Linked DNA regions of Homo sapiens. The main gene of each other region encodes a partner of the protein of the gene in region 2 in a complex. Each region holds a gene or a part of one and is shown on either strand. Other genes may lie near its edges.

Region 1 (11,508 bases), on a different chromosome or scaffold from region 2:
GGCCAACATGGCAAAACCCTGTCTCTACTAAAAATACAATTAGCTGGGTATGGTGGCAGGCACTTGTAATCCCACCTACTCGGGAGGCTGAGGCAGGAGAATGGCTTGAACCCGGGAGACGGAAGTTGCAGTGAGCTGAGATCGCACTACTGTACTCCAGCCTGGGCAACAAGAGCCAAACTCCATCTCAAATAAATAAATAAAACAGTAAAGGGTCATAATTCTGCTGTGAAATGGGAGAAACATTATGCTGGGGTGGAGTAATTTAAAGCACAAAGAGGAGGAACAATAGGCCAAGTTAGCACAAACCACTGAGGTGCCAGGGACAGAACTCTAAGCTCATGCTGAGTTTGACACTTTCTGGTATCTTTACTTCCTAAGTAAAATCGAGAAATCTTATAAAAAATAACATTTCTTTAGCAGGAATTTATTGGAGATTTATAAAATGCTTGAGCAGAAAGGCACTTTAGACATCAAATAGTCCAAGTTCCTAGTTTTTATGAGAAATCTGAGGCCCAGGAAATTAAAGTGACATGTCCAAAATGGCCACTTTGATTTCTTCACTGTGAAAAGCATCAGTGTCCTTAAAAAAAGAATTTCAAAAGGCTAGGGTACAGTGGCACTTTGGGAGGCCAACGCAGGAGGATCACTTGAGTCCAGAAGTTCAAAACCAGCCTGGGCAACAAAATGAGACCCTACCTCCAAAAAAATAAAAAAAGCATCAGTGTCCCAAGCTGAGTATCAGTTCAGACAATGCCCAATGGCAGTGACTGCCTTTGCCTAAGATACAGGACAGTATTTTCCCAAAGTGGATTCTGCAGAATGTTCGTAGCTATCATCTCAAAAAAAAAAAACAATGTGGGTCAAATACATGTTTGGAATACATTGTATGTGACAAAGAATAAGTTTTAAAAAATAAGATGAAATTCAGTTCTGACCTTACTGATTCCCAATTCGCAGATATATTTCCACACTTCATGTGATGAGGCAAATGAACTATTTCTTTGTATCATTGGGTTCTGTTTGCTTTCTCGTGCTGTTTCTGCCTATAAGGATTGAAACATAAGAAATGTAAATAAGAATATTGGTGTGTTTTCTGAATACACTTTATACTGAGTCAAACCAACAACAGAACATATTTAGTTAAGTAAAAATTCCCAATTTCAGGTTTTTAATTCCTATAAAATATGATAAATAGATTAAAATCCTTTGTGAAAAACTTTTTACAAGAGGGTTTGCAGTGATGTTTCCTCAATCATACCTCACCTTGGACTGTAGGAATTTAAAACACTGTTGGTTAAGCACCTCTACAAATTCAGATTCAAAATCCTGGTCACTGTACCAGGCTCCACCAGTCACAGACCGGTCTGGCTGCAGGTTATAGAGCATATACACCTTCTTTTTTGAGGCCTAGGAAAGAACATGCACAGTTCATGTGTTTATAAGATAACAATTTCCAAAAACAAAAACACCTATATTTTGGAACAGTTTAAGATGTACAAAATTATTGCAAAGATAGTACACAGAGCTCCTATATACATCATGCTGTTTCCCCTATTTTTAACATCTTGGATTAGTGTGGTACACTTGTCACAATTAATGAACTAATATTGATAAATCATTACTAACTAAATGCCATACTTTATTCAGATTTCATTAGTCCTAATGTTCCTTTTCTGCTCCAGGATTCCATCCAGGACATCATACTACATTTAGTCATCTCTCTCAGGCTTCTTTTAGTTGTGACAGTTTCTCAAACACCGTATTTCTATCACTATGGACTCATGAGTATTTATTTTATACTTTGATTTACATTCAGATACTTCATTGTTATTCCCACACTGGAAGCTTTGGAATGCTTTGGGCATTGGAAGCTTTTCACTTGGTTCCTGTATCCCTTTGCTATGCTCCCATCGTGTGTGTGTGTATTTTAGCACTTTTTTTTTTCTTTTGGAGACAGGGTCTTGCACTGTCGCCCAGGCTGGCGTGCACTGGTGCAATCTTGGTTCACTGCAACCTCTGCCTCTTGGGTTCAAGTGATTCTCCTGCCTCAGCCTCCCGAGTAGCTGGGGCTACAGGCATGTGCCACCATGCCCAGCTAATTTTTGTATTTTTAGCAGAGACGGGGGTGTCACCATGTTGGCCAGGATGGTCTCGATCTCTTGACCTCGTGATCCTCCCGCCTCAGCCTCCCAAAGTGCTGGGATTACAGGCATGAGCCCCCGTGTCCAGCTATTGTAGCACTTTCTTACTTTCTAGCACTACAAGATGTCAAGAGCATTTTCTTTTCTTTTTTTTTTTGAAACGGAGTTTCGCTCTTGTTGCCAGGCTGGAGTGCAATGGCACACGATCTCAGCTTACTGCAACCTCCACCTCCCAGGTTCAAGCGATTCTCCTGTCTCAGCCTCCCGAGTAGCTGGGATTACAGGCGCCCGTCACTATGCCCAGCTAATTTTTTTGTATTTTCAGTAGAGATGGGGTTTCACCATGTTGGCCAAGCTGGTCTCTAATTCCTGACCTCAGGTGATCCACCCTCCTTGGCCTCCCAAAGTGCTGGGATTACAGGCATGAACCACCCTGCCCAGCCGTCAGGAGCATTTTCTACATGTTCATTTTATTGCATGATAGAAACCACGACTTGGGCACTAGATGTGTTCATTGCCATCGGGATGTCATCACTTCTAGGCCTTCTCAGTTGGCAGCACGAGATTTATGTGCGCATATTAACCCTTGTATATATACATAGCTATACTCAATATTTCTAAATATAACCATCTATATTATTTATATTAAATTACACAAGAGTCCATACTGATGTTTTCAAGTCTAATCCATTACTACATGGATCATTCTAACTTTCCTTGTTTGTCTGTAACTACTCACCCCAACACTGAGGAACCCAAATTTCACTGGGTTGTAAACATGAAGAATTTGGGCCAGGCATGGTGGCTTATGCCTGTAATCCCAGCACTTTGGGAGGCTGAGGTGGGCAGATCTTTAAGTCTAGGAGTTCAAGACAGGCCTGGGTAACATAGTAAAACCCTGTCTCTACAAAAATACAAAAATTAGCTGAGCATGGTGGCACGTGCCTATAGTCCCAGCTACTTGGAAGGCTGTGGTGGGAGGATGGCTTGAGCCCAGGAGGTTGATGCTGCAGTGAGCTGTGATTGTGCCACTGCACTCCAGTCTGGGTGACAGAGCCAGACCATGTCTCAAAAAAAAAAAAAAAGAAAAAAATTTGGCTAGACTTTGTCCCTTTTTCCTAGGAAATAACTTCTACATCTTTGGAATTTCCCAATAGGCCTTGTTATTCATGGTGAATCCCTTAGATCACACCTGGGTTTATGCTAACAAGGTGACTCCTGATAGGACTCTAAATAGTTTCAGGATAGGAGTTGTCCATGCTGGAAAGACCAACCGCATGATTAGAGGGTTGGGGCTTTGGGCCACATGACATCAGTCCAATCTCTTGGGAGAAGAGAGGAGCTGGAGATTGAATTCACTCACATGACCAAGGATTCAATCAATCATGCCTGTATAATGAAACCCTAATAAAAACTTTGGACAGCAAAGCTTGGGTGGGCTTCCAAATTTGGTTAATGCTTCTGTCATACAAAATAATTTCACCACCCTAGAAATATTTCTCATGCTTCACCTATTCAACTTTCCCTACCATCCCTGCCCTCACCCCGATCTTTTTAGTCTGTCTAGTTTTGCCTTTTCCAGTATGTCATATAGTTGTAATCATACAGTATGTAGCCTTTTCGGACTGGCTTCTTTTACTTAGCAATATGCATTTAAGATTTACTCATATCTTTTCATGATAGCTTATTTCTTTTTATAACTGAATACTATTCTGGTTTGTCTATCCATTCACCTATTGAAGGATACCTTGGTTGCTTCCAGTTTTTGATTATGAATAAAGCTGCTGATTACGAATAAAGCTGCTATAAATATTCATGTAGTTATGTGGACATGAGTTTTCAAATCAGTTGGGTAAATACTTAAGAGCTTGACCTTTGGACAATGTGGTAAGACTCTGTTTAGTTTTGTAAAAACTGCCCAGTTTTTTAACAAAAGGACTGAAAATTTTGCATTCTTAGCAATGTATGAGTGTTCATCTTGGTCTGTATCTTGTCAGCATATGGTATTACCAATTTTTAGATTTTAGCTATTCTAATAGGTGTGTAGTGGTATCTCACTATACTAAATTTTATTTTAATTTGCAGTTCTCTAATGAAAAATAATGTAGAGCATCTTTTCATATGCTTATCTGCCATCTGTATGTCTTCTTTGGTGAGGTTCAGATCTTTTGCTCATTTTTAGTTGGATTATTTGTTTTCATTGTGTGTTTTTTTTTTTTTTTCTTTTTTTGAGATGGAGTTTCGCTTTTGTTGCCCAGGCTGGAGTACAATGGTGCAATCTTGCTCACTGCAACCTCTGCCTCCTGGGTTCAAGCAATTCTCCTGCCTCAGCCTCCCAAGTAGCTGGGATTACAGACATGTGCCACCACGCCTGGATAATTTTGTATTTTTAGTAGAGACAGGGTTTCACCATGTTGGTGAGGCTAGACTTGAACTCCTGACCTCAGGTGATCCACCCGCCTTGGCCTCCCAAAGTGTTGTTTTCTTATTGCTGAATTTTAGGAGTTCTTTGTATATTTTGGAGACAAGTCCTTTATCAAATATGTGATTTGCAAATATCTTTTAGTATGTAACTTGTCTTTTCATTCTCTTAATGTGTCTTGCAAAGCAGAGGTTTTCAAAAAATTTTGATAAACTCCAACTTATTAACATTTTCTTTCATAGACTACTATTGGAGTTATAGTCCAAGAATTCATTAACAAAGCCAAGGTCATGTAGATTTTCTATGTTTTCTTCAAAAAGTTTTATAGTTTTGCACTTTACACTGAGATCTAAGATTATTTTAACCCTTAAAAGGACACAGAAGTTCACCAACGGATGAATGAACAAAAGGTGATATACATCTATACAATGGAATTTTAATTGGCAATAAGAAGGAATAAAGCACAATATGGATAAATCTTGAAAACATCATGCTAAGTCAAAGTAGTCATACATAAAAGACTACATATTCTATTATTCCATTTATAGGAACTGTCCAGAATAGGCAAATCTATAATAAAGGCAGAAAATAAATTATTCGTTTTTAGGGCCTATGGAAAGAGAGGCTGGGAAACAAATACTAGTGGCCACATTTGGGGGTGATGAAAATGTTCTAAAATTAGAACAGCGGTGATGGTTGCACAACTCTTAGCTTATAGTAAAAACCAGTGACTGTAAATCCAAAGATTTTACACTTTAAAAGGTTGAATGAATTCTGTAGTATGAATGATGAATTATATTTCAGCAGAGCTGTTATTAAACATAAAGATGTAGAAGGAGGACTGACAAAATGAGGCTACATGATAGGGTTTTATTATATGATTTTTTCTACCTTTGTATATATTTGAAATTATCCATTAAACAATGTGGAAGGGAAATGCTATTCTGATAAATAAAATCACTAATAAGCATCAAATTCTTATAAGTGATGTTATAATTCTTATAATTCTTGTTTTATTCAAAAATAAAAACTTGAAGCAACATATGTAAGCGGATATTTGAGGAAAGGTCTACTCACTGCCACAGACCTAACAGCTCTGAAATTATAAAATTTGAATTATAGCTGTAATTCTTATGAAATGTGTATTGAAGCAAACTTTATTCTAGGGGAATCTCAGTTCCTCTGATGTCTAAATCAGTGAGGTCAGGGGCAGATGTCCCCGAGGGAGCCAGCTCTGGAGCAGGGGTGGGGCAGGATGAGGAGCAGGAAAAACACACGTGTACTAGAAGAGAAGCTCCACCAAGGCAGGGATCTTTCTACGACTTGTTCATTAATGTATCCCAAGCACTCAAAACAGTGTCTGGCACACAGCAAACACTCTTTGTTGAATGAGAAAGCTAATATGTCGGGATAAAGTAAATTATCTTACACACCACAAAATCTAGGAAAAATGTTCACAGTTCCAAAGATTCTTCACTGAAGACAGTAAAGTAGTTTTAGATTTTTGAGTGGGTGAGTGAGACACCAAGAGCTAACTGTGTAGGGACAAGTCTAAGCAGCATCTCCAAACCAATCCAACATGAGCTAAATTTTTAAGTCTTTTTTGACCAGCTGTTCTAAATCATGACATAACTTCAAGAATAAAAACTTGAAGCAACATATGTAAGTGGGTATCTGAGGAAAGGACTACTCACTGCTACAGACTTAACAGCTTTGATAAGCTTTTTACTTTCCAGATTCTTCAGAATTTTGTTGATTTCTGTTAATGGCAAATTACTTTTATAGCGGATATCTCTGCTCCATATTCCTATAAGAAAGTAAAGTAAAATAAGTTGAACTCTGGTTTTCATGGATTTTTAATGTTATTCCTCTAACTTGTGTCTCATTCCAAAGCTAGCAGTATAAAGCTAACAGTAAAGAATGCTGGCTAAAGTAGCAAAAGTATGCTAAACAATAAATAAGTATAATGCTTTGTAAGACTTATTATAATGATTTATAATTTCTAACTAGAAATTTCTTGGAATCCCAGTGTGGCAAACTTTTAAAAAACTTATGGAAAGGGCTGGGCATGGTGGCTCATGCCTGTAATCCCAGCACTTAGGGAGGCCGAGGCAGGTGGGTCACCTGAGCTCAGGAGTTTGAGACCAGCCTGGCCAACATGGTGAAACTCTGTCCCTACTAAAAATACAAAAATAATTAGCCGGGCCTGATGGCATGCACCTGTAGTCCTAGCTACTCGGGAGGCTGAGGCATGAGACTCGTTTGAACCCGGGAGGCGGAGGTTGCACTGAGCCGAGATCACACCATTGCACTCCAGCCTGGGCAACAGAGCAAGACTCCATCTCAAAAAAAAGAAAAAAAAAATTATGAAAACGACGTTTTTATAATGGAAGGAAAAATCATGGATGCAATGGAATTTTATCATCTGTACCCTTATCTCTGTTTTCTGATACTTTCATTTTAGATTGTAAATGTGAAATACAAACTTAAATTTGGGTCAAGGTCAACTGCCATCCTCAAGTGGGACAAAAACACTCTTTAGATGAGTGTCTGCATGCATGTAATCCATTATTTATACAACATTGTATTTGTGAGATGGAAAAGGAAGCCTAGGGTTCTTATGGCTGCTAAAAGCCCTGTGTGAGAAGCAATGATTTCTTTTTCAAAGAAGGAAATAAGTGTTATATATGGAAAGGGAATGTATGTAAATATTTTGCTTTATTTTCTTCCCAATGTAATGGCATATGAGATAGGAAGATTAAAAAAATATGCAGAATGGCTTTCTCATAGGACTATTTTTAAAAATGTTAATTTTAATAAATATAAGAATTAGTTATGTAATTTCAGATTACATCTCAATTTTTCCAGCTAATATCAATGACTCAAATAGATCCCAAATTATTGTAACTTAGGATTGCAATTTAGATACAGTTCTTCAAGCGGGTAGAAGAGAAACTATAGCTGCGGAGGGACATCTGTTAAGACACTGCTACACCACACCAGCTTTCCTTTTGGTCCTTGCAAAAACGAGAGGTGTCAGCATCCACAATTTATAGATAAGATAAAGAAACTGAAGCTCACAAAGTTTAAGTAACTTGTCCATGGTCATATAGCTAGAAGGTACAGATTTAAAAAAAAAACTTAAATTTTATTTATTTTGAATAGATAATACATTCATGTGACTCAGAATTCAGACGTCTTTTTCCATCCCTGGACACAGCCCTTTAGTTCTTGTCTCTTTCAAGGCAACAACGGCCTTACTCTTGGGTGTCCTTCAAGCACATGCATGTTATATTTGTATGTTCTATTACCTTCCTCAGTATACTCTGTCCACTGAGTTCTACCCTGGGAAGCTGAGATCTGGGTCCCTATATCTAGTTCCAAAGACAATGTTTTTTTCTGCTTCATCTTTCACATGCTTACCTTTATTTCCTGCATCCTCTATGATTTGATATACTAGTTTTTCTTGGTTATCGGATCCCTTCATTTTACTGTAGTGGAATAAAGTAAAATTAGTAAGGTAAGGACTATAGGATAATCTAATAATCTACATCACTACTTAAACAAAATTAGCAGACAAGGTCACCACAGTGACATATTTACCAAAAGAAAGGCTTACCTTAAATAGAATGAGACAGAGCTGTGTGTACCAACATGAAAAGATGTCCAAGATACAGTAAGTGAAAAAAACAAATTGCAAAACAGAATGGATAGCATGATTCCATTTTTGTTAAAAAAAAAAGAGAAAGATTATATATAAATATATAATCATCTATGTGTATTTATATATAGCTAGAAGAAAGGATATACACTAAATTATTAAGAGCAGTTACCTCTGGGAAATGGAATATATCATAGGAGGCAGGGATGATACACAGGACAGGTTTATGTAATTTTGTATTAGCTTTATTCCCAACACATACGTTTGCAAATAATAAACATTTTCTTAAAATTAAAAAAACAAGTACTTACCCAGCATTCTGAGAGTCCTTTATTCTATATAAAAGGCCCGTATTGCTCCTTAAGAGATCCAACTGACCCTAGTTTTTAAGACAGTAGAAAACAGGAGTCAGTTATTTTGGAGATATGTTAAATCAAATGACAAATGTTGATGCATTCTTTAACATTCTTAATTTTTCAAAACCTGCTCTTTAATCTCAAAATTTTTCAAAATATCACTAACAATTTCCTGTAGGCTAGATCTTGGCTTGGTTATATGATCAATGCATAAAGAATTTTTAAAAAGCAGCTTGAGAATAACAATCTATATTAAAAATCAATATAAATCCAAATTACATATATAAAATAAAAATATAATTTATATAAATAAAAAGTTGAAATAAAGACTAAATAGGCATATTCTGTTGCACAGTGAAAAATAAAATTTATAAAGTTAATGGCTGGGCGTGGTGGCTCACACCTGTAATCTCAGCACTTTGGGAGGTCAAGGCAGGTGGTCCATTTGAGGTCAAGAGTTTGAGACCAGCCTGGCTAACATGGCGAAAACCTGTCTCTACTAAAAATACAAAAATTAGCCAGGTGCAGTGGCATGCGCCTGTAGTCCCGGCTACATGGAAGGCTGAGCTGAGATCGCACCACTGCACTCCAGCCTGGGCAACAGAGCAAGACTCCATCTTGAAAAGCAAAAAACAAACAAAACAAAAAACAAAAAAAGTTAACAGTGACATTTACTGAAGTCAGCCAATGAATAAAAGGACTAGAGTAGTATTGTTTTTATATAGCAAATCAAAAGTAAAATAAAGTATGTCTGTCATGCTCCTGAATTTCCTTGGGTCCGAACTTAAGAGAACCCAGATAATTATACCACTAGGCTCTGGAAGTACTAGAAAGCCACAGTTGAGAGGGACGCTATTCCCTTGTTTATTTATGTATTTATTTAGAGACAGAGTCTCACTCTGTCACCCAGGCTGGTGTGCCGTGGCACAATCTCGGCTCACTGCAACCTCTGCCTCCCGGGTTCATGCGATTCTCGTGCCTCAGCCTCCCAAGTAGCTAGCATTACAGGTGTATGCCACCATGCCACGCTGATATTTGTATTTTAGTAGAGATAGGGTTAGGCCATGTTGGCCAGGCTGATCTTGAACTCCTGGCCTCTAGTGATCCGCCTACCTCGGCCTCCCAAAGTGCTGGGATTACTGGCAGGAGCCACTGTGCCCAGCCCATTCCCTTGTTTTAAAACAGACACTCATGACTTGGAAATGGATTTACATACTGAATGAACAGTGACACACTCCTGTTCCCTGACCCCACGAAGTGGCAAAGTAGGACTACAAGGCCCAATCCAGAGGCTCTGGTCATTTATCCAGCTTATGAATATTTACTGAATACTTGTACTGTGCCAGGTGTTATGATAGGTGTTTGGGGGAACAACATTAATTCTAAAAGGGAAACACACAGGTGACTTCAATACCCATCTGGTTGGCATTAAGATAGAGGTAAGTAAAGCCACCCTGAACTCCCAGATTGGGTACTCGGAGAACAGGCTGCGGCCCAACCTGGGGGGGTTCAGTGACTTCCTGGAGACAATGGCAGAGTTGAGTCCTAATGCGTTAGTCATCTGTAAAGAATAAGAAGAACCTTCTAAGCAGGGGAACAACATGAGTCCTGTGGCACGAAACAGCATGATGTGGCCAGAAACCAAAAACAATCTGCTCCTCCTGAAACCTAACTTTTGAAGTAGAGTGGTGGAGATGAGGCTGGTGAACAATGCAGGGACTCAGTGTGGGAAACCCAGGAGTTTGAACTTGAATCTCCAGTATAAACAAATTGTAGGTGGTAGAGTGCCTTGGTCAGACCTGCATTTAAGACAGATCAGGGGCCAGGCTCGGTGGCTCATGACTGTAATCCCAAATCAGGCTGGCTTCTCTGAGACAGATGGAGTCATGGAAACCAGTTAAGATGCTACTGCAGCTGTCCAGGTAAAAGCCATGAGCCTGAACATGATGCAGTACCAGGGATAGAAATGGAGGGGGTGTGGACAGCAAATTTAAGAACTGTTTTTAAGAGCTAAAATCAGAAACATTACATGATTTATTAATAATCACTCCCTTTCTTAATATCCTTTGATAGCTCTACTACTGCCTGCATACAACCTATAGCCAATAGGACTCGCAGTGGGTGGGTGGTGGCAGAGGTGGTAAAAGAGAGGTGCTGAAGATGATTTTCAGTCAGAAGGAAAGAGCTGAGAGGGCGATCAGAGGAAGAAAAGAACTTTTTCCACTGCTACAACCTCCCAGAATCCCTTCCTCTGTCTTTCCTAGAGCTGAAGACCTTCACCACAGTGAAATAACTAGAAATCAGCAACATTCCTTTGTCCTTGGGCTAGAACAGGGGTGAGCAATCTGCTCCACAGCTTGTTTTTATAACCAAAGTTTTGTTGGAACATGGCTGTAGCCATTTGTTTATGTATCATCATCCATGGCTGCTTCTTGCTAAAATGACAGTGTAGTTGTGACAGAAATCATATGGCTCACAAAGCCTAAAACATATACTGTCTGGCACTTTATAGAAAAAGTTTGCCAACTCCTGAGCTAGAAAATTGATGGGAAAGGTTTAAGAAAAGATTCATCGGACCCCAAATCTCCACATCCAGAGCCCTTGGAAATCCAACAAGGCTAGTAGACTTAAAAAACAAATCAGTCATTCAGATGAGGCCTTGGCGTAGAACTCTTTAACCTAACTGCTACTAAAGCCAAACTGAAATGCTCTTAGGAAAAGGATGTTTTGGTGATGAGGGAAAGTAAGGGAGATTTAGAGCATCGGCACCACTTGGTGGGTTTTTAGACAGTCTTGCTTGTTTGTTTCTGGACAGATGGAGAATGGCTTCACTGATAAATTCCATTGCAATGTCACTGGGGGCTAAGGCTGCACTTCCTCCCCAAAGCCCAACATTCTTCATTCAACTGGACTCATTCTTGCTTC
Region 2 (11,508 bases):
AAAGAACATAGTTTTGAAATCAGATTTGGGTTCATGTTCTAGCTCTGCCACTTATGTGCTGTGAGAATTTTAGTTAAGTTAATTACTCCTTAAGTTTTCCTTCTAAAATAAAAATGGGATGAAACTAGTATCTAAAAGTATGGCCTGGATTCTAAATCCAGCTCCTGAATTCTTTGGCCATGTGAATCTAGGCAAGTTACTTAATCTCATTATGCTTACATTTCCTATCTATGAAACGGCAACTATAGTATCAACCTTGTAAGACTGTTCACAGGGTTCACTGGAAACATGTAAAGTACTTGGAACATAGTAAGTGCTCAATAAGCACCAACATTATCACTACTACTATCTGGGCAACTACCACTACCACCAGCAACTCCTACCTCATCAAACTGTTATGATAAAATGAGACAACAAATTTTAAAAGTTTAGAATAGTTCTTGGTACTTGTATTAACATCTCCATAATGGAAGGCTATTATTTGTAAAAGATATTATCCCAGTTAATTCTCACTGAAAACCCTGTGATGTAGGAGCTATTCGTATGATTCCTACTCTGCAGAGATAAAGCACAAGACTCAGAAATTAAGTAACTTGCTCAAGGTCACACAGTAAGAAGTCTAAATAAAGTGGAAGGTAACTATGGAACTGTGGGAAATGAGACTGAACTGGATGAATGGAAACTGGTCATGCAGAATCCTTAAAAATCAGGTAGAGGGGTCTGCACTTGATTTGTAATGTGCAACAGAGACCTCTGTATGTTCTTAAACCAGGAGTGTGGCGAGATGATCCAAATGATGACCCAAGACTTCAAAAGCATGGGCCAGATAGGTGACTTCCGAGTCAATAAATAAAGCAAAACTAACAGTGGTTCACAAAGAGATAGACCTCGGCCTTAGGTCATCAGCACAGTGATGTCAGCACTATAATCAAATCAGCTCTGTGAAGCTTACCAAATGCTACCAGTGATTCAAGCTACGATTTCACAAAAGTGCTGCTTTGCCCAAATGACCACAAACACACTGAAGTCACAAAGAGTATCATATTTGAAAGGAATCTAACACAGGAAGGACAATGCATAATTAGTGCATGTGACAGAGTTCATTTAAAATTGAAAATGACAAATCAAACCACATGTCATCTTTGCCTGCTTAATCAGGAAATCTGCCCACTGGCTTCCTCCTATCTTTGCTTGAAATTGAGTTATAACTCCCTGTGCTCTCCAAAATATGAGGCATTAAAACATCCCTTCCTGGAATACTTGACTCGAGAAAAAATATGAATGTTTTTTCTCTTCAGGGCCAATGGATCCATCGCAGGTGCACTGTTACAACTTTATTTCCAAATAATGGCCCCTTCTCTGTCATTCAGAATATTCCACGTCGTGGGAAATTTGTCCTTGGCCATTCCAAGTTACTACCCCACTAAACAAGTCAATAGTGTAATGCAAGAATCCAAAGAACACCCTCTGCCTCTTCTAGAACGAATATAAAGGAGGAAAACCCTCTTTCACATAAGTTTTAATGAATCTGTGTTTTGGGATCAAGAGAACCAATTGATGTTTACACAGGTACTCTGTGTAACAGACTCTGGCTGACAGAAGCTGATTTATTCATTGATTTTATCAGGAAGATAAATTTTTTTAAAACCCAGCTAAATATTCACAGAATAAATGCCAATCAATGTATGCTAGGCCTTTCCTTATTTAATAAAATGTCAAGAGGTACTTTATCTACCTTTTATGAAGTCCTAAACGAGCTGTATGTATTGGGGAATTTTTTTAAAGGCAGTTTTTATCTTTGAGAAGTTACTGTAACCACCACTAAACGACAGGTTGTTGGCAACAGGATATGGTGAAACCAGACAGACATCAACTTAATCAAGTTATCCAATTTCACAGCACCAATGATGTGACGCATGAGAAAGACACATCCCTCAGAGCAATCCAGCCCCAAGATGTTTAATTCAAATCTATCCATGAGGATATAATCAGAGAATTCCAAATTGAGGAACAGTCTTCAAAACAACTGGGTTAAATTTAGACTCTTCAAATATCAATGTCATCTGTCACAGTGCCAATGTCACAAAAAGAAGCTAAGGAAACTTCCAGAGGAAAGGAAATTAAAGAAACATGACAACTAAATGCAATGTGTAGTTCTTCACTGGATCCTGAATTGGGAGGAAAAAGAACACTATTATGGCAACTGAAGAAATGTGAGTTTACATTGTATCTTAATAATAGTAGATTATCATCGCTAAGTTTCCTGAGTGTGATAAGGCGACTGTAGCTACATAGAATGCCCTTTTTCAAGAAGGGGTGAAATGATCTGCTATCTACAACTCTCTAATGGTTCAGTAAAGTAAGTGTGTGCACCTGTGTATGGAGAGAAAGCTCATGCCTGTGCAAAAGAAATAAGGGAATGCCAGGCATTGTGGCTCACACCTGTCATCCCAGCTACTCCGGGCTGAGACAGGAGGATCACTTCGTCCCGGAGTTTGAATCCAGCCTGGGCTCAAGTGTCTCTAATCAAAAACAAGAAAGGAAGAAAGAAAGGAAGGAAGGAAGGGAAGGAGGGAGGAAGGAAGGAAGGGAGGGAGGGAGGGAGGAGGGAGGGAAAAGAAAAAAGAAAAGAGAAAAAGGAAAAGGCAGCAAATATCAGAATCAAAATGTTAACAAGTGGTGACTCTAGGTAACGCGTATACAGGTATTTGTGGCATTCTTTTTATTTTTAGTTTTTTTTTGAGAAGGAGTCTCGCTCTGTCTCCCAGGCTGGAGTGCAATGGTGCGATCTCGGCTCGCTGCAAGCTCCGCCTCCCAGGTTCATGCCATTCTCCTGCCTCAGCCTCCCAAGCAGCTGGGACTACAGGCACCCGCCATCAGCCCGGCTAATTTTTTGTATTTTTGGTAGAGACGGGGTTTCACTGTGTTAGCCAGGATGGTCTCGATCTCCTGACCTCGTGATCCGCCCGCCTCGGCCTCCCAAAGTGCTGGGATTACAGGAGTGAGCCACTGGGCATGGCTTTTTTTTTTTTTTTTTTTTTTTTTTTTTTTTTTTTGAGACGGAGTCTCACTCTGTCACCCAGGCTGGAGTGCAGTGGCGCGATCTCGGCTCACTGCAAGCTCCGCCTCCCGGGTTCACGCCATTCTCCTGCCTCAGCCTCTGGAGTAGCTGGGACTACAGGCGCCAGCCACCACGCCCGGCTCATTTTTTTAGTACAGACGGGATTTCACCATGTTAGCCAGGATGGTCTCGATCTCCTGACCTTATGATCCGCCCGCCTCGGCCTCCCAAAGTGCTGGGATTACAGGCCTCAGCCACTGCGCCCGGCCCCCCCACCTTTTTTTTTTTTTGAGACAAGAGTTTCGCTCTTGTTGCCCAGGCTGGAGTGCAATGGCATGATCTCAGCTCACCATAACCTCCACTTCCCGAGTTCAAGCGATTCTCCTGCCTCAGCCTCCCAAGTAGCTGGTATTACAGGCATGAGCCACCACACCTGGCTAATTTTGTATTTTTAGTAGAGACGGGGTTTCTCCATGTTGGTCAGGCTGGTCTCAAACTCCTGACCTCAGGTGATCTGACCGCTTTGCCCTCCCAAAGTACTGGGATTACAGGCGTGAGCCACCATACCAGGCATCTAAAAGTTTTTTAGAGCTATTAGAACTTAATAGACACATCTAGCAATTATAAACGTAGAAGCTGTTGATCTCTACAAAGCAGGAACTGTCTGCTCTACAGCTAACACTTTAGTATTATGTAATATATTCACATGCAATCAGACTTCTAGAAACTGCTTACCTATACAAAACTTCATATTCTCCTGTAGGACTTAGAATAGTACTCATTTTACGCCAGGCGCAGTGGCTCACACCTGTAATCCCGGCACTTTGGGAGGCCAAGTCGGGCGCATCACGAGATCAGGAGATCAAGACCATCCTGGCTAACACGGTGAAACCCCGTCTCTACTAAAAATACAAAAAATTAGCCGGGCGTAGTGGCGGGCGCCTGTAATCCCAGCTACTCAGGAGGCTGAGGCAGGAGAATGGCGTGAACCCGGGAGGCGGAGCTTACAGTGTGCCGAGATGGGGCTACTGCACTCCAGCCTGGGCGACAGAGCGAGACTCCATCTCAAAAAAAAAAAAAAAAAGAAAGAAAGAAAGAATAGTACTCATTTTATTGACATGTGTTTAAAGCAAATACTCTAAGTGCATTTTAAAGACTGTCTAGAAAAAAGTCCAGGGACTTGTGCACACAGAGGAGAGACCATGTGAGAACATATCAAGAAGTTTGCAATCTGCAAGCTCAGGCAAGAGGCCTCAAAAGAAACCAAACCTGCTACACCTTGATCCAGTCTCCCGAACTGTCAGAAAACAAGTGTTTGCTGTCTAAGCCACCCAGTGTCTGGTGCTTTCTAAAAGCAGCCTGGCAAATTAACATAGCAATGCTTGAGTAAAAAAAAAAACAAAACAACTGTCTAAATCTATACTACAGGCAGGCAGTTACTTAATTTCCTTAAGTAATGAATTAGATGACTGAAGCTGACTTTCCATTTGACACTTCTTGTAAAATTTGCTTAAAATGGTGAGTCAAGTGGATGTAAACAACTACTTGAGGAAACTGAATTCCAAATAAACAGAACAAAATGATCTCTTGGTGGACTTTCCTTAGAAGCAAACACATACACAAATGGCACATGCAAACAGTGCCTTTTTTTTTTTTTTTTTTTTTGAGACGGAGTCTTGCTCTGTCGCCCAGGCTGGAGTGCAGTGGCGCGATCTCAGCTCACCGCAAACTCCGCCACCCGGGTTCATGCCATTCTCCTGCCTCAGCCTCCCAAGTAGCTGGGACTACGGGCACCCACCACCACGCCCGGCTAATTTTTTGTATTTTTAGTAGAGATGGGGTTTCACTGTGTTAGCCAGGATGGTCTTGATCTCCTGACCTTGTGATCCACCCACCTCGGCCTCCCAAAGTGCTGGGATTACAGGCGTGAGCCACTGTGCCCGGCCAAACAGTGCCTATTAATTGCCACACAGTCAACTCTTACACAGGCAATGACGAAAATAATTGCTCAAATTCTCCTATGCCCAACCTATGCTATCAAGTCATGCTCTGAAAACCTAAACTCTGGTACAAGCAAACGGAGCAGCTTCTGAAGTCAATGAACAACTTAACTTGTAGCATTCTCTTGGGAGCTAGCAAATGAGTATCCTCTTTCCAGTCCTGTTACTGAGTTGTTATAGTACCTATTACCCACCTTTTCTAAATATGAGTATTTCCAGCTGTAAAAGGAAAGAAATCCTGACACTACCTCAAAAAGATGGTACAGAGGATAATGTCTATTTTCCCAATTATATATATTACGTTCAAGAATAAAAGAGTGGATACAAACTTTTCCAGCCATATAAATGATCATTTATAGACAAAGCCAAATAGCAAATACCTTATAGATAGAAATACCTAATTTTGCTATATAAATATTTTGCATGGTGGCGCATGCCTGTAGTCCCAGCTAGTCAGGAGGCTGAGGCAGAAGAATCGCTCGAATCCAGGAAGTGGAGATTGCAGTGAGCTGAGATTGCACCACTGCACTCTAGCCTAGGTGATGGAGTGAGACTCCATCTCAAAAAAAAAAAAAAATTGTATGCTTTTACTTGACGAAAATACATTTCCAAGTAATGGTCAAGAAATTTTTATTTTTAAATTGTCAATCAAATAAAGCATAAATATTCCTCCCCTTAAATAAATTTCTGGGCCAGCGCGGTGGCTCATGCCTGTAATCCCAGCACTTTCGGAGGCCGAGGCGGTAGAATCACCTGAGCTCAGGAGTTCAAGACCAGCCTGGCCAACATGATGAAACCCCATCTCTACTGAAAATACAAAAATTAGCCAGGCAGCTACCCAGTAGGCTCAGGCAGGAGGACTGCTTGAACTCGGGAGGCGGAGGTTGCAGTCAGCCGAGATTGCGCCATTGCACTCCAGCCTGGGTGACAAGAGCGAAACTCCATCTCAAAAAAAAAAGAAGAAATTTCAGGTATTATTATTATTATTATTATTATTATTATTATGTATTAGTTACTTAGTAGGTATTTCCTCAATCAGAATTTTAAAAAGTAGCAAAAACTTAGGGGAGCTGTTCATTGTGCCTCCTCACTTCAGGTTCTGGGAGTGTCTGATAGAGGTACAATATACAGGCATCCCCTGGTATTCACTGGAGATTGGTCCCAGGACCCCCACATATACTAAAATCCAAACATGCTTGTGTCCCAGAGAGCCTTGCAGAACCAGCAGCTAGGAAGCCAGCTCTCCACATACGTGGGTATATTCTCATCCCTCAAATACTATATTTTCATTCTCTGTGTTTGGTTGCAGATGTGGAACCTGCAGATATGGAGGGCCAACTGCATTTATTTTTTAAAATCTGCGTATAAGGAGATCCATGAAGTTCAAGCTCGTGTTGTTCAAGGGTCAACTGTATCTGCAACTCAAGGTTCTGCTAAAGATCCTAAGGAGCAGACTTCCAAAGGTCACGCCTCCTGTTGAAGACCAGGTGAGGACCAGAAGTTAGGCTTCCAGACCTTTCCACTCCAGGGCCCTTCCACTCCCAAATCACATGTCTATCTCAGGAAACCTCATTTTCCCATGAATTACTGGCTGCAAAATTCTTGATTGGTTACAGGAAGTCACTGACTACTTGGCAGAAGGGGACAGGCTGTTACAAGAACAAAACCCCGTGATTCAAACCATTTCACTTAGGAAAATCAGAAAATATACACGCCTAGCAACTAGGATGCTAGCTAATGAATTTATACAGTCGGCTTTCCTTAGCCTCAGGTTCCACATCCTTAGATTCAACCAACCTCAAATGAAAAACATGCAAAAAACATTTTTTTTTCTTTTTCTTTTTTTCTTTTTTTTTGAGACGGGGTCTCGCTCTATCGCCCAGGCTGGAGTGCAGTGGTGCGATCTTGGCTCACTGCAAGCTCCACCTCCCGGGTTCACGCCATTCTCCTGCCTCAGCCTCCCGATAGTAGCTGGGACTACGGGCGCCCGCCACAGCGCCCAGCTAATTTTTTCTATTTTTAGTAGAGAAGGGGTTTCACTGTGTTAGCCAGGATGGTCTCGATCTCCTGACCTCATGATCCGCCCCACTCAGCCTCCCAAAGTGCTGGGATTACAGGCATGAGCACCGGGCTGCAAAAAAAAATTTTAAGAAAATGCTACATTGTTGCTGACATGTACTATGTAGTTAGGCCTAGGATGGCTGCCTCTACACTGAACATGGATAGACTGCTTTTTGTCATTATTCCCTAAACAACACAGTACAACTACTATTTACACAGCCTTTACATTGCATCAGATATGACAAGTTGGTTGATAATCAAACAGTTTTTCCTCTGCTCTCACTCGACAACAATCAATACAGAAGACTTCTGTGACCAGATGTGTGGGGTTTTCTCTCTACCAATAAACAAGCAATCAATTCTGCAGCCAACACCAGCTGGGTACCCTCCAATCCAATTCATTTCAGACACTATCTGAAAACAGTGTGAGATTCCACAGGCTGAGGGCTCAGTCCCAGAAGACTGCCCCTACTTCAGACAGCAGTCACACAAGTCAGGGCCTCCAGAACTTCTCAACGGCGGGCTTCAAGCTGCAGTTCCCAAGACCTCCTCTTTAGGCTTCATTAATTTGCTAGAATGGCTCACAAAACACCTACTTAGGTTTACTGGTTTATTTAAAGGATATTACCAAGCATACAGATGAAGTGGTGCACAGGGTGAGGGATAGAGAGGGGGCGCAGAGCTCTATGCCCTCCCCAGGCATACCACCCTCCAGAAACTTCCACCTGTTAGACTATCCAGAAGTTCTCTTGGGCGTTTTGTAGAGATTTCATTAGAGAGATGATTGAAGCATGGCCAACCTCACAGTAATTGACTGGACAGAGAGTGTGATCTAATACTAAGACTGAGTGCAGACACCCAGCAAGGCCCATCCAGATTCTCCCTGGCCTCTGTGTGTGGTATTCCTTCCTACTGGGTAAGGGGCAGGACCCCCTCTGAAACAATCAGACGAGATAGGTCAGAGAATTTCTTTACAACCAGCTCTAAGACAGAAAGGCAGGGGATGATTAGAGGGCAAGAGACAGACAGAGCTTCTGTTTTCTGAGGCCTGCTTCTGAGGCTTAGAGTGCCCCAACATTCTAACAAAAGACTGTCTTTCACCTTTACTGCTCTGAAGCTGTCCCAAGGCCGCTTCAGGAACCTTGGACAAAGGACAAATACTTTAACAAAAGTTATGCTTACTGTTTTAGTCATTTAGGAAGTAATAAAGGCTATGGTAGTTATGAGCCAGGAACCATGGACAAAAACCGGTATTACATGTCATGGTATCATAATAAGTCATCTAGAGATGATTTAAAGTATATGGGAGAATGTGCATAGATTATATGCAAATACTACACCGTTTTATATCAGGGACTTGAGCATCTGTGAATTTTGGTATACGCAGGGGGTCCCAGAACCAATCCCCCAAAGACGCTGAGAGATGACTATATTTATGAAGCTAATAAAGTATTGTTATATTACTTTATTGAACAAGTATTTGCTGAATGCCTACTGTGTGCCAGATGCAATGCTAAGCACTAGGTGAACAGACACTGGTCCCCACCCTCCAAACAAGTAAACATACATTTATTATTGCAACTTGTAATTATTTGAGGGAAAGTAAATCAAGGTACTATGAAAGACAAAAAGAACTTATGTTAGTTAGACTTACTGAAGACGAAAGGCAACTTTGAAAAGGGACACAACCTTCAAGAACAGGTGGCCAGGTGTGGTGGCTCACGCCTGTAATCCCAGCACTTTGGGAGGCTGAGGCAGGCAAATCACCTGAGGTCAGGAATTCAAGACCAGTCTGGCCAACATGGAAACCCCGTCTCTACTAAAAATACATAAATTAGCTGGGCGTGGTGGCACACGCCTGTAATCCCAGCTACTTGGTAGGCTGAGGCAGGAGAATCTTGAACCCTGGAGGCACAGGTTGCAGTGAGCTGACATTGCGCCACTGTACTACAGCCTGGGTGACAGAGCAAGACTCCATCTCAAAAGCGAACTAAAAAAAGAACAATAAAAAGAAGAGAACAGGACGAGGGCGAGGAGGAAAGTATACCAGACAGAGGGTACCACAACGCAATGGTCCTCAGGAAGTGCTTAGAAGGTTAGAGGAGAAGGAAATACCTGTCAGTGGAAAGTGTGTGTCTGGGAGGTTGGGAGAGTGGCAAGTGGTAAGGCTGGGGAGTAGGTGAGGTTTTACAGGGTCTTGCAGGTCCTGGTAAGAGATGGAGATTTTCTCTAAGTACAATGGAAAGTCAATGAAGGGTTTTACCCAGGAGCGACATGTTCCAATCATTACTTAAGATCACTCCAGTTGCCATGTGGAGAACAGAATGGAGGCTGGGGAAGAGTGAACACTCAAAGGCTATTGCTTAATCCAGCCCAGAGGTGATGGACTACAAAGCTAACATTGGAGATGGTGAAAAGTAACTGCATTCAAAATATATTCTAGGGTGGAAACAACAGGACCACTGATGGACTGGATTTAGGGAGTGAAGAGAGAGGGCTAGATTTTTGGTCTATGCAATTGGATAGATGATGAGAAGAAGGTTAGAAACATACCTTTGAGAACCATCAGCACATAGATGGGTGAAATGACAGAGTGTGGAGAGAAAGGGTCCCAGGACTGAGCCCTAAGATACCACTCAACACTTAGACATCAAGCAAGAGAGGAACGGGACCCAGGGAAGGACACTGAAGTAGTCCTTGATGTAGGAGGAAATACGCAAAGGAACATACATCACAAGAAAAGGAAAGTTTCTAGAGTTTCTGTATTAACCACTGCTGAGAGATCAAGAAAGTTGAGGCCAGAAAATCAACCTCTGAATTTGACAAGATGGAGGGATCAGGTTTTTTTTTTTTTTTTTTTTGAGACAGTCTTGCCCTGTCACCTAGGCTGGAGTGCAGTGGCACAATTTGGTTCACTGCAACCCCTGCCTCCCGAGTTCAAGCGATTCTCCTGCCTCAGCCTCCTGAGTTACTGGGATTACAGGCGCCCACCACTACACCCAGTTAATTTTTGTATTTTTAGTAGAGAGGAGGTTATGCCATGTTGGCCAGGCTGGTCTCAAACTCCTGACCTCAGGGGATTCGCCCACTTCGGCCTCCTAAAGTGCTGCGATTATAGGCATGAGCCACCACGCCCCGCTGGTTCAGGTAATCTTAACAGTCATTCCCGTAGACCAGTGAGGATGAAAGCCCAACAGAATGGCTGAGAGAATGAGGGGCTAATCAGCACTTTCAAGAAGTTTTGTTGGGATGGGAAGCAGAAATGGAGTAAGAGGGGGACATGTATGTGGGGACGGAGGATTTTCTAAGATGAATTCTCTAAAGCAGGGTTGTATGCTCACAGGAAATGCTCTAGTAAAGAGGGAAAAATTAGTAATGATGGCTTGGACTAGAGTAAATTATATGAATAGTTTTTTAGGTTGCAGATGAAATCCCATCAGTGGGTTGCAAAATTAATTCAGTGGTTCAATTTTTTTTTTTTTTTTTTTTTAAGACAGAGCCTTACACTGTCACTCTGGCAGGAGTGTAGTGGCTCTATCTCAGCTCATTGCAGCCTCCTGGGATCAAGTGATCCTCCCATCTCAGCCTCGTAAGTAGCTGAGACTACAGGCATGAACCACCACACCCAGCTAACTTCTTAATTTTTTGCAGAGACAGGGTCTCCCTATGTTGCCCAGGCTGGTCTCCACCTCCCAGGTTCAAGTGATCCTTCTGCCTAAGCTTCCCAAAGTGCTGGGATTGCTGGTGTGAGCCACCACGGTTGGCCCCATTCATATTAATAAAAAATAGACAATATGAGAGTGTACGCCACACATTATTGTTTCATGAGCCTTTCATTTCAGTTACACAGACATATTGTGTTTAAAAAAAAATCGGAAGAGGCCAGGTGAAGTGGCTCACGCCTGCAATCCCAGGACTTTGGGAGTACAAAGCAGGAGGATCACTTGAGCTCAGGAGCTGGAGACCAGCCTGGGCTGTAGTGAGACCCTGCATCTACAAAACTTTTTTTAAAAAATTAGCGGTGAGTGATGGCGTGGGCCTGTAGTCCCAGCTACTGAAGAGGCTGAAGCAGGATTGCTTGAGTCCAGAAAGTGAGGCTGCAGTGAACCATGATTACACCCCGCCTGGGGGACAGAGCAAGACCCTGTTTCTTAAGAAAAAACAATTAATTAAAAATGTAAAAATGTGAAATGCCATAGTACATATAACCATTAAACATGAGGCAAAAGAACATAAAGGAAACTGTATCAAATAATCAGTTCAAAGAGAACACAAGATAGTAATACCTACAAATTAATATCAACCGTATAAAGCCCACATTCAGAGTAGATGCAAAATCTTCCATTTGCACCAGGCGCAACGAGCAAGCATGGAAAAGACCACGTG
Region 3 (8,211 bases), on a different chromosome or scaffold from region 2:
ATTCTCCAGCCTCAGCCTCCAGAGTAGCTGGGATTACAGGCGCCTGCCGCCACGCCCAGCTAAAATTTTTGTATTTTTAGTAGAGACGGGGTTTCGCCATGTTGTCCAGGCTGGTCTCAAACTTCTGACCTCAGGTGATCCGCCCACCTCAGCCTCCCAAAGTGTTGGGATTACAGGCGTGAGCCACCGCACCCGGCCCTTTGTGTCACTTTTTGAGACTTTGTTAATACAGCTTTAGGGTGAAACAAAATGGTGGCCAAAAGCTGAGGGCGTGGATGGTACAGATGACACAGCAGGGACATGGGTGAGGGTTATGGATTTGGGGATTCCAGCCCACTTATGTGCTATTGTTTCCCTTGTAGCCAAGGCAGGTAGGGGCTGATCTATGGAGGAGCTTCTCCCAGCTACTTGTCTCACCTCCCATAAACCCAGAGGGACCCAAGAGAACTGGCCCTGGGGCAGGTGTAGTCCACTCTCCTCCCAAAGTTCTCGAAGCCCTCCGTCCAGCAGCTGGGAGTCAGAGAAGACACATCAGAGGGGCCAGTGCCTGACTCTTCCAAGTCCTTTTGCTTGCCTCTCCCTCAGCCCACACCCAAGATGGTCCCAGGCATGGGTCTCTTGGCTCAGGTTGGATCAGCTGACTGGTTACCTCCTCCTCAAGTTCCACGTGCCCACCTGCAACAACAGTGGGGCCAGTAGGTGAATGGTGGTGGTCTTGGCCAGGGAGCCCCCACTCACTGTTGACACTCCTCTCCCCTCCAGTGGACACAGAGGGAGTTGCAGTCCCTTGTGACTATGAACATGCCACATTTTGGGGCCCACTTTATCCTTCTGAGACTGGGAAAAACATTGTTGCGGGGAAAGGGCAAATTTCTTCTCTGTACTTGGGGCCTTGTCCCCAGAATACTCACCCGGGGGTACCCAGAGGTTGGGGGAAACGCTCAGGGTGCGTGCCCTTCGGGTTAGCAAGACAGTCTTGTCGCTGGACTGCAGAATGACGGCCACACCCAGGTCCACACCTCGATCTGTGGGCAGCTCAGCCCCAGGGACCCTGGGCCGCTCCTCCAGGGCCGCAAAAGGGCAGAAAGGGGGTCGCTGGCAGAAGGAAGCCAGCTGGGTTAAGGCTTCAGAAGGGCGGCACTGGGTGGGCGTGACTTCCAAAAATGGGGCTACACCGCGCGTTGGGGGCGGGGTCCTCGCCGCCAGTTCCCACCCGATTTCAGTCCCCATCTTTGGCCCTTCACTGCCCCCGCTCTGGGGCCCCCTTCTGCCGACCTGGAGCGGAAGCCTAGCGGAGGCGCCTGGGAAGGGCCTGCTCGAGAGGACAAGCCGTCCTCGCTTCAAGCTGCAGTGAATGGGCCACGTCCCGAGCCCTGGTCCGGCTCCCAGGAGGCCACACACACTCCGTGCGAAGCTCACCGACTCCGGACGCCGGGACAGGAGCAGCTGCACCCGCACCTCGGCCATAACGCGACTCTGGAGTCGCTGCGGCCCGCCTGGCGCCCTCTGGTGGCCTAGAGAAGCTTCCCCTCGGAACGTTCCGCGGGGTCGTAGCGGGGTTTCCGAAAGTCCCCGGGGAAATAAGGGCACATCTTTTGAGGATGACCCATGGGTATAATATTAAACCACAAAGAAGAATACCTCTAAATGCTCAGCTCCTATTCCTTCCTATCTTCTCTGTTTAGGACAATGACCCCCAGACCGAATGACTTCAGGACCCACATGTTACTTCCAACCAGCCCTAAGCTGAACTGTAAGCATCCTCTACAGCACTATGCACACCTGTTACAGCAGGCATCACTTCGAATTAATTATCTCCAAGCGAAACACACCAAATAACATTTTCGATACCACTTCTCCTTTCACTTCACTCAAATGGCAACCAAGTATGCAGATGCTATCTCCTTAAACTTCCTCAAACCCATGTTCTCTCCAGCCTTCATTCATTGCCCTAGTTTAAGCCTTCCTCGTATTTTGCCTGAAATATTATTGCAAGTCTCCAAATAGTCTTGCCCCTACCAGTTCATTCTCTACAGTGCTGCCAGAGTGATGTTTTGTTTTGAGAGTCTCACTCTACAGCCCAGACAGGAGTGCACTGGTGTGATCCCAGCTCACTGCAACCTCCATCTCCCAGGTTGAAGCGATTCTCGTGCTTTAGCTTCCGAAGTAGTAGCTGGGATTACAGGGCGCCCACCACCACGCGCGGCCTTTTTTTTTTTTTGAGACGGAGTCTCGCTCTGTCACCCAGGCTGGAGTGCAGTGGCGCCATCTCAGCTCACTGCAACCTCCACCTCCCTGGTTCAAGCGCTTCTCCCGTCTCAGCCTCCTGAGTAGCTGTGATTACAGATGTGCACTACCCACACCTGGCTAATTTTTAAATTTTTTTGTAACGATGAAATCTCACTGTTGCCCAGGCTGTTCTTGAACTCCTGGCTTCAACTGATCCTCCCAGTGTGTTGGGATTACAGGATTTAGGCACCATCAAAATTATCTTCTAGCTGTTTTGAAATGTACAGTAAATTAATAACTATGCCACCCTGATCTATCCAACACCAGTCTTACTTCTTCAAACTGTATTATCTGTGCCCACTAATCAACCTCTCTTCATCCTCCCCATCCTTCCTAGCCTCTGGTAACTACCAATCTATTCTTTATTTTCTTGAGATCCACTTTTTTAGCTCCTATGTGAGACAGAACATGCAATATTTGTTTCTGTGCTTGGTTTATTTTACTTAACATAATGACCTCCAATTCCATCCATGTTGCTGCCAATGACAGGATTTCATTCATTCTTATGGCTGAATAATACATTTTCTTTAGCCTTTCATCTATTGATGGGCACTTAGGTTGATTCCATGTTTTGGCTATCGTGAATACTGCTGCAATAAACATGGGAGTGCAGGTATCTTTTTGATACATTGATTTCTTTCCTTTTGGAGATATATATATACCCAGTAGTGGAACTGCTGGAGCATAGTTCTGTTTTTAGTTTTTTGAGGAACCTCTGTAGTCTTCCACAGTGGCTGTACCAATTTACATTCCCAACAGTGTACCAGGCAGGGCTCTCCTTTTTCCACATCCTCACTAGCATTCATTCTTTCTTCTTGATAAAAGTAATGAATTGGGGTGAGATGTTATCTCATTGATTTTGATTTCCATTTCTCTGATTAGTGATGTTGAACATTTTTTGATGTATCTGTCGGCCATTTGTGTATCTTCTTTCGAAAACTACCTATTAAGATCTTTTGGCCATTTTTAAGTTGGATTGTTCTTTTTGCTATTGTTTGAGCTCCTTATATATTCTGGTTACGAATCCCTTGTTAAGATAGTTTGCAAATAAAGCATCCTCATCTTTCAAACTATACATTGTCACTCTCTGTGTTCCCTTCCCTGCCTGACCCTTTTCCCTTTCTGGCCTCTCTGTACATAGTGTTTACTCTTCTACTGTAGCACCCCTAATACTTCCTGGTACTTATGTACTTATTTGTCTCCTCCTACTAGACTGTATGCTCAAAATTTATTAATCTTTATATCCCCAAGGCTTACCCCAGTACTTAGCACAAAACAGGTGCTTAGTAAATGATGGTGACTGGCTTGAGGGCAGAGATGGTGTCTTATTTATCTATCCTTGTATGTTGTGTTTAGTATGGTGGCTGGCAATTGTTTGACACTCAAGTGTTTAAACAATTAGAAAACACATTGGTGAGAGAAAACTGAAGATATTATAAAACATCTAACTGCTTTAAATGAATTAAAGCTGCTGGGACAAATTATATCCGTGATACTGAGAGAGAGAATTTAGCGTTGCCAGTTTTAAGGAACCATGGAGAAGAGGAAGGCGCTAATTTACTGTGTGCTTACCATATGCCAGGCATTGAGCTAGCTGTTCTACATACACAGTTTCAGATGTGTTAGAAGCCTGGAGCTGGCAAATGTGGCTTCAGTCCACAGATTCTAGTGTGACTGCTTGGGACAATCCACCTGCTAACCCTGAAAATAATTTTTTCTTCTACTCTGTGATAGTCTTTCACATTCCCTACACTGTGTGTGTTAAAAATTACAGTTCATCAGCCTGGGCAACACAGGGAGGCCCTGTCTCTACAAAAAAATAAATAAATAAATAAAAAATAGCTGGGTATGTGTGGTGCATGCCTGTAGTCCCAGCTACTCCAGAGGCTGAGGTGGAAGGACTGCTTGAGCTCAGGAGGTCAAGGCTGTAGGGAGCTGTGATTGCGCTATTACACCCCAGCCTGAGTGACAGAGTGAGATCCTGTCTCAACAACAACAAATTATCTATCTATCTATCTATCTATCACCTATCTCAACAAAATAAAGAACAGGCATAGACATCTGAAAATAAAATTAACTTCTTAGGAAGTTTCCTATTGCCAGGGATATAGGTAACCATAGGTGTGGGTAACTTCTTTATGGGAACAGATGCATCTGATAGATGATTAACCTTGTTGATTTAAGGTTCTTCCCACTGCCAAGATTTGATGAGGGGAGACTACAGCAATGGATCTAAATATGCCAAATTCTTTCAGGTGTATCCTGGGCTGCAGGGGATAGAGAGGGGGGTTTAGTTGAAGACTCTGCGACTTATCCCACTGCAAATAATGCATCCAGGCACCTCCTTTATTTTGCTTTCCATCCCCCCAGATCTTCTGAGGAAGATGCTTCTTCTGGATCACTGTCTCTTCATGGTGCACTCAATGTAAGACTCCAGCAGGAAGATGGTTTCGTCCACCTGGATCTCACTGGCATCCAACCTGAGTGAAAAGTAAAGGCATTTGCCTAGACTGAATGTTCATTAGCATATTTAAGATTAGAGGTTAGGGTGGGTGTGGCCATGGATAACTGCTTGGTTACCCTTGAGAGTGGATGGAAAGAAAGCAGGAGAACCAGTAGATCATTTTGCTATTTACCGAGCATCTTTATGTGCCAGACACCATGCAAACTGCTAAGAATACAAAATACAGAGCCTCTGTCCTGGGGGAAGGTAGTCTTCATTTGCAATCAGGAAAACGAACGTAAAGGCACAGGTATAAAAGGACCTAGTGTGTTTTAAAATAGCAAGAAACTAAGAGTGTCTGAAGCTTAAAGTGAGTGGTGATTAGGAAGAAATGGAAGCTTCTTCAGCCTGACAAAAGCCATCTAGGAAAAACCCACAGCTAACATCATACTTAATGGTGAAAGACTAAAAGCTTTTCTCCTAAGATCAGAAACAAAACAAAGATGTCTGCTTTTGTACTTCTATTCAACCTTTTACTGGAGGTTCTAGCCAGGGTAATGGGGCAGGAAAAAAAAAAAGTAAAGGCATCTAGATTGAAAAGACAGAAGTAAAACTCTCTCTATTCATGGATGACATAATCCTATTATAAAAAATCTCAAAGAATCTGCAAAAAAACTACTAGAATTAATAAATGAATTTAGTAAAGTTGTGGGATACAAAATCACAACACCAAAGTTGGTTGTTTTTGTATAACACTAGCAATGAACAATCTAAAACTGAAATAAGCGACCACTAAACTAGTATCCAAAAAAATACTTAAGAAATAAATTTAATGAAAGAGGTGCACAAATTGTGCACTGAAATGTGAAGGTCTAGGAAAGAGGTGATGAAGGCCTGCGTGTGGACCAAGATGAAAGGCCAGATTTGAGACACATGACTCAAGTAAAATTAAGCCAGCGCAGTGGCACTTGCCTGTAGTCCCAGCTACTTGGGAGGCTGAGGCAGGAAGACTGTTTGAACCTACGAGTTCAAGGCCAGTCTGGGCAACACAGCCAAAACCCCGTCTCTTAAAAAAAATTTATCAGTACTTGATGAACAAGAGAGTGTATATGGTGATGGAGAAGAAGCTCAGAACATCTTCAGAATTGCTAGTTTACAAAAATAGGTGGATTAAATTCTGTTAAGTGAGCTGGAGGAGACAGTGAGTTTAGGTTTGCTCATGCTAAGCTGGAGGGTTACAGGAGGTCAAAATGGATTTTCTGGATGGTATTCTGAAATGCAGGTCTGAAGTTTATGATGCTTACTTGTTGACATTACGTTTCAGGGTCTCTAGCTGCTGACGTTCAGGAGCTGTGATCATCTCCTCTATTTCTTGTAACTGTGCTTCCTCTGCACCAGTAGCCTGCATAGATGCAATGATGGCTTCTACCCTCTGAGATTTTTCTAGTAGACGCCTGTCAAACAAACACAACTCTGAGACATCTTCCCTAACCTGGGAGATTCTCTTACCACGTGTGTCTGAGGCACTACCCACCACCCTTTACCATTTTCCTGATCAAAGTAGATAATGTCACCTTCTAAGGACATTTTCTACAAACTTATTTGGAAATATAACTTCACTCCTGAAATTCTTATTGCCTCTCATTTGCACTTAAAAGTTTGGTGCTTTTGTACGTTTCTCACAAATTTAATCTGAAAAATTATTTCACTGGGAGCATGTTAGAAAAGTGTAGACTAATGCATGATTTACACTAATCTAAGCCAATGATTCAATGCAAGTAGACTGGTTGCTATCTCTACTGGTTCCTACTTCTCAAAAAAAAAATTTTTTTTTTTGAGATGGAGTCTCACTTTGTCGCCCAGGCTGGAGTGCAGTGGCGTGATCTTGGTTCACTGCAACCTCCACTCACTGGGTTTAAGTGATTCTCCTGCCTTAGCCTCCCGAGTAGCTGGGACTATAGGTGCCCGCCACCATGCCCAGCTAATTTTTGTATTTTTAGTGAAGACAGGGTTTCACCATGTTGGCCAGGTTGGTCTCAAACTCCTGACCTCAAGTGATCCACCTGCCTCAGCCTCCCGAAGTGCTGGGATTACAGGCATGAGCCACCCTGCCAGGCCCAGCGTCTATTGATTCCTATTTCTAGAGGAAATTTCCCCTGAGGCCCTTGATCTTGAAAGATGTAAATAACTCAACTGAAAATGTTACTTACTTATTCTCTTTGGTTTCAAATTGCCTCCTTTCTATCAAGTTGGCTATGCTCTGAGGAAAGAGAAGACAGACAAGGAATGCACATAGTTCTATTTCAGCAGCTCAGGGCGAAGTGGGCACATGAGGGGTACTTGACCGTATGGAGGAAATGGGGAGAAGGTCCAGATTGAGTTACCTTGTAGCACCTGTGCAACAACATTCGGGCAGCTGACAGGATGTTCACAGTATATAAATAGAAGGTCCTGGATGGGGCATGGTCTGGTGTTTTGGGAATTTCCTATTTGTCCAATAGAAAGAAAAATAGCAGAAATTATACTGTTTTAGAACTGGCAAAGCACACACTCATTCTACCTGGAGTTACTTAGCCCTCCTTTTTACTTACACTTTCCTGTTTCCTAGTCATTCAGTACCTGTGTTTATTTTATTTATTTATTTTGAGACTGGGTCTTGCTCTGTTACCTAGGATGGAGTGCGGTGGCATGATATCAGCTCACTGCAACTTCCACCTCCGGCTCAAGCAATCCTCCCACCTCAGTCCCCCAAGTAGCCGGAACTACAGGCATGCACCACCATGCTCCGCTAATTTTTTAATCTTTTGGGGGTGGTGGAGACATGGTCTCACTATATTTTCCAGGCTGGTCTTGAATTCCTGGGCTCAAGTGATCATCCCGCCTTGGTTTCCCAAAGTGCTGAGAATACAGGTGTGCCCGGCCCAGTCTTTGTGGTTTATGTCATAATCAGTCAAATGGAGAGCTGGGCTTCCCTGTTTTTTCCATTTGACTGTCAGCATCCTGAGCTGGGGAAGAAAGGGAGGGCAACTAACATTTACTGAACAACTCTATGTGCCAGGTAAATTCTATTTGATCTTTACAAAAAGTCGTATTATTATTATTTTTGAGACAGAGTCTTGCTCTGTTGCCCAGGCTGGAGTGCAGTGGCACAATGTTGGCTCACTGCAACCTCTGCCTCCCAGGTTCAAGCAATTCTCCTTCCTCAGCCTCCTGAGTAGCTGGGATTACAGACACACGGCACCACGCCCAGCTAATTTTTGTATTTTTAGTAGAGACAGGGTTTCACCAGGTTGGCCAGGCTATTCTCGAATTCCTGACCTCAAGTGATCCGTCCGCCTAGGCCTCCCAAAGTGCTGGGATTACAGGCATGAGCCACCGCACCTGGCAACCATATTATTTTTATTATCACCATCCATCACTGTTTTATAGATGGGAAACGTGGTAACTTGCTTAATGTAACTGGGTAAGGCAGAGCTGTA

Evidence for each region.
Region 1: CRCP (region 2) and POLR3F share a complex: the UniProt entries of both Homo sapiens proteins name them as parts of the RNA polymerase III complex.
Region 3: CRCP (region 2) and POLR3C share a complex: the UniProt entries of both Homo sapiens proteins name them as parts of the RNA polymerase III complex.

The regions. Positions count from the first base shown.
Region 1 is NC_000020.11:18,469,940-18,481,447, reverse strand, and holds part of POLR3F (DNA-directed RNA polymerase III subunit RPC6), read right to left. Parts: intron 10,834-11,508; exon of another isoform or gene 10,757-10,833; intron 10,145-10,756; exon of another isoform or gene 10,083-10,144; intron 8,607-10,082; coding exon 8,539-8,606; intron 8,058-8,538; coding exon 7,990-8,057; intron 6,374-7,989; coding exon 6,261-6,373; intron 1,411-6,260; coding exon 1,267-1,410; intron 1,047-1,266; coding exon 939-1,046; intron 1-938. UniProt on the Homo sapiens protein: DNA-dependent RNA polymerase catalyzes the transcription of DNA into RNA using the four ribonucleoside triphosphates as substrates.
Region 2 is NC_000007.14:66,115,593-66,127,100, reverse strand, and holds part of CRCP (DNA-directed RNA polymerase III subunit RPC9), read right to left. Parts: intron 1-11,508. UniProt on the Homo sapiens protein: DNA-dependent RNA polymerase catalyzes the transcription of DNA into RNA using the four ribonucleoside triphosphates as substrates.
Region 3 is NC_000001.11:145,838,897-145,847,107, reverse strand, and holds the end of POLR3C (DNA-directed RNA polymerase III subunit RPC3), read right to left. Parts: intron 7,219-8,211; coding exon 7,117-7,218; intron 6,993-7,116; coding exon 6,943-6,992; intron 6,187-6,942; coding exon 6,037-6,186; intron 4,770-6,036; coding exon 4,688-4,769; 3' UTR 2,706-4,687; downstream 1-2,705. Other genes in the region: m7GpppN-mRNA hydrolase NUDT17, read right to left, coding at 418-510, 650-675, 912-1,095, 1,276-1,467. UniProt on the Homo sapiens protein: DNA-dependent RNA polymerase catalyzes the transcription of DNA into RNA using the four ribonucleoside triphosphates as substrates.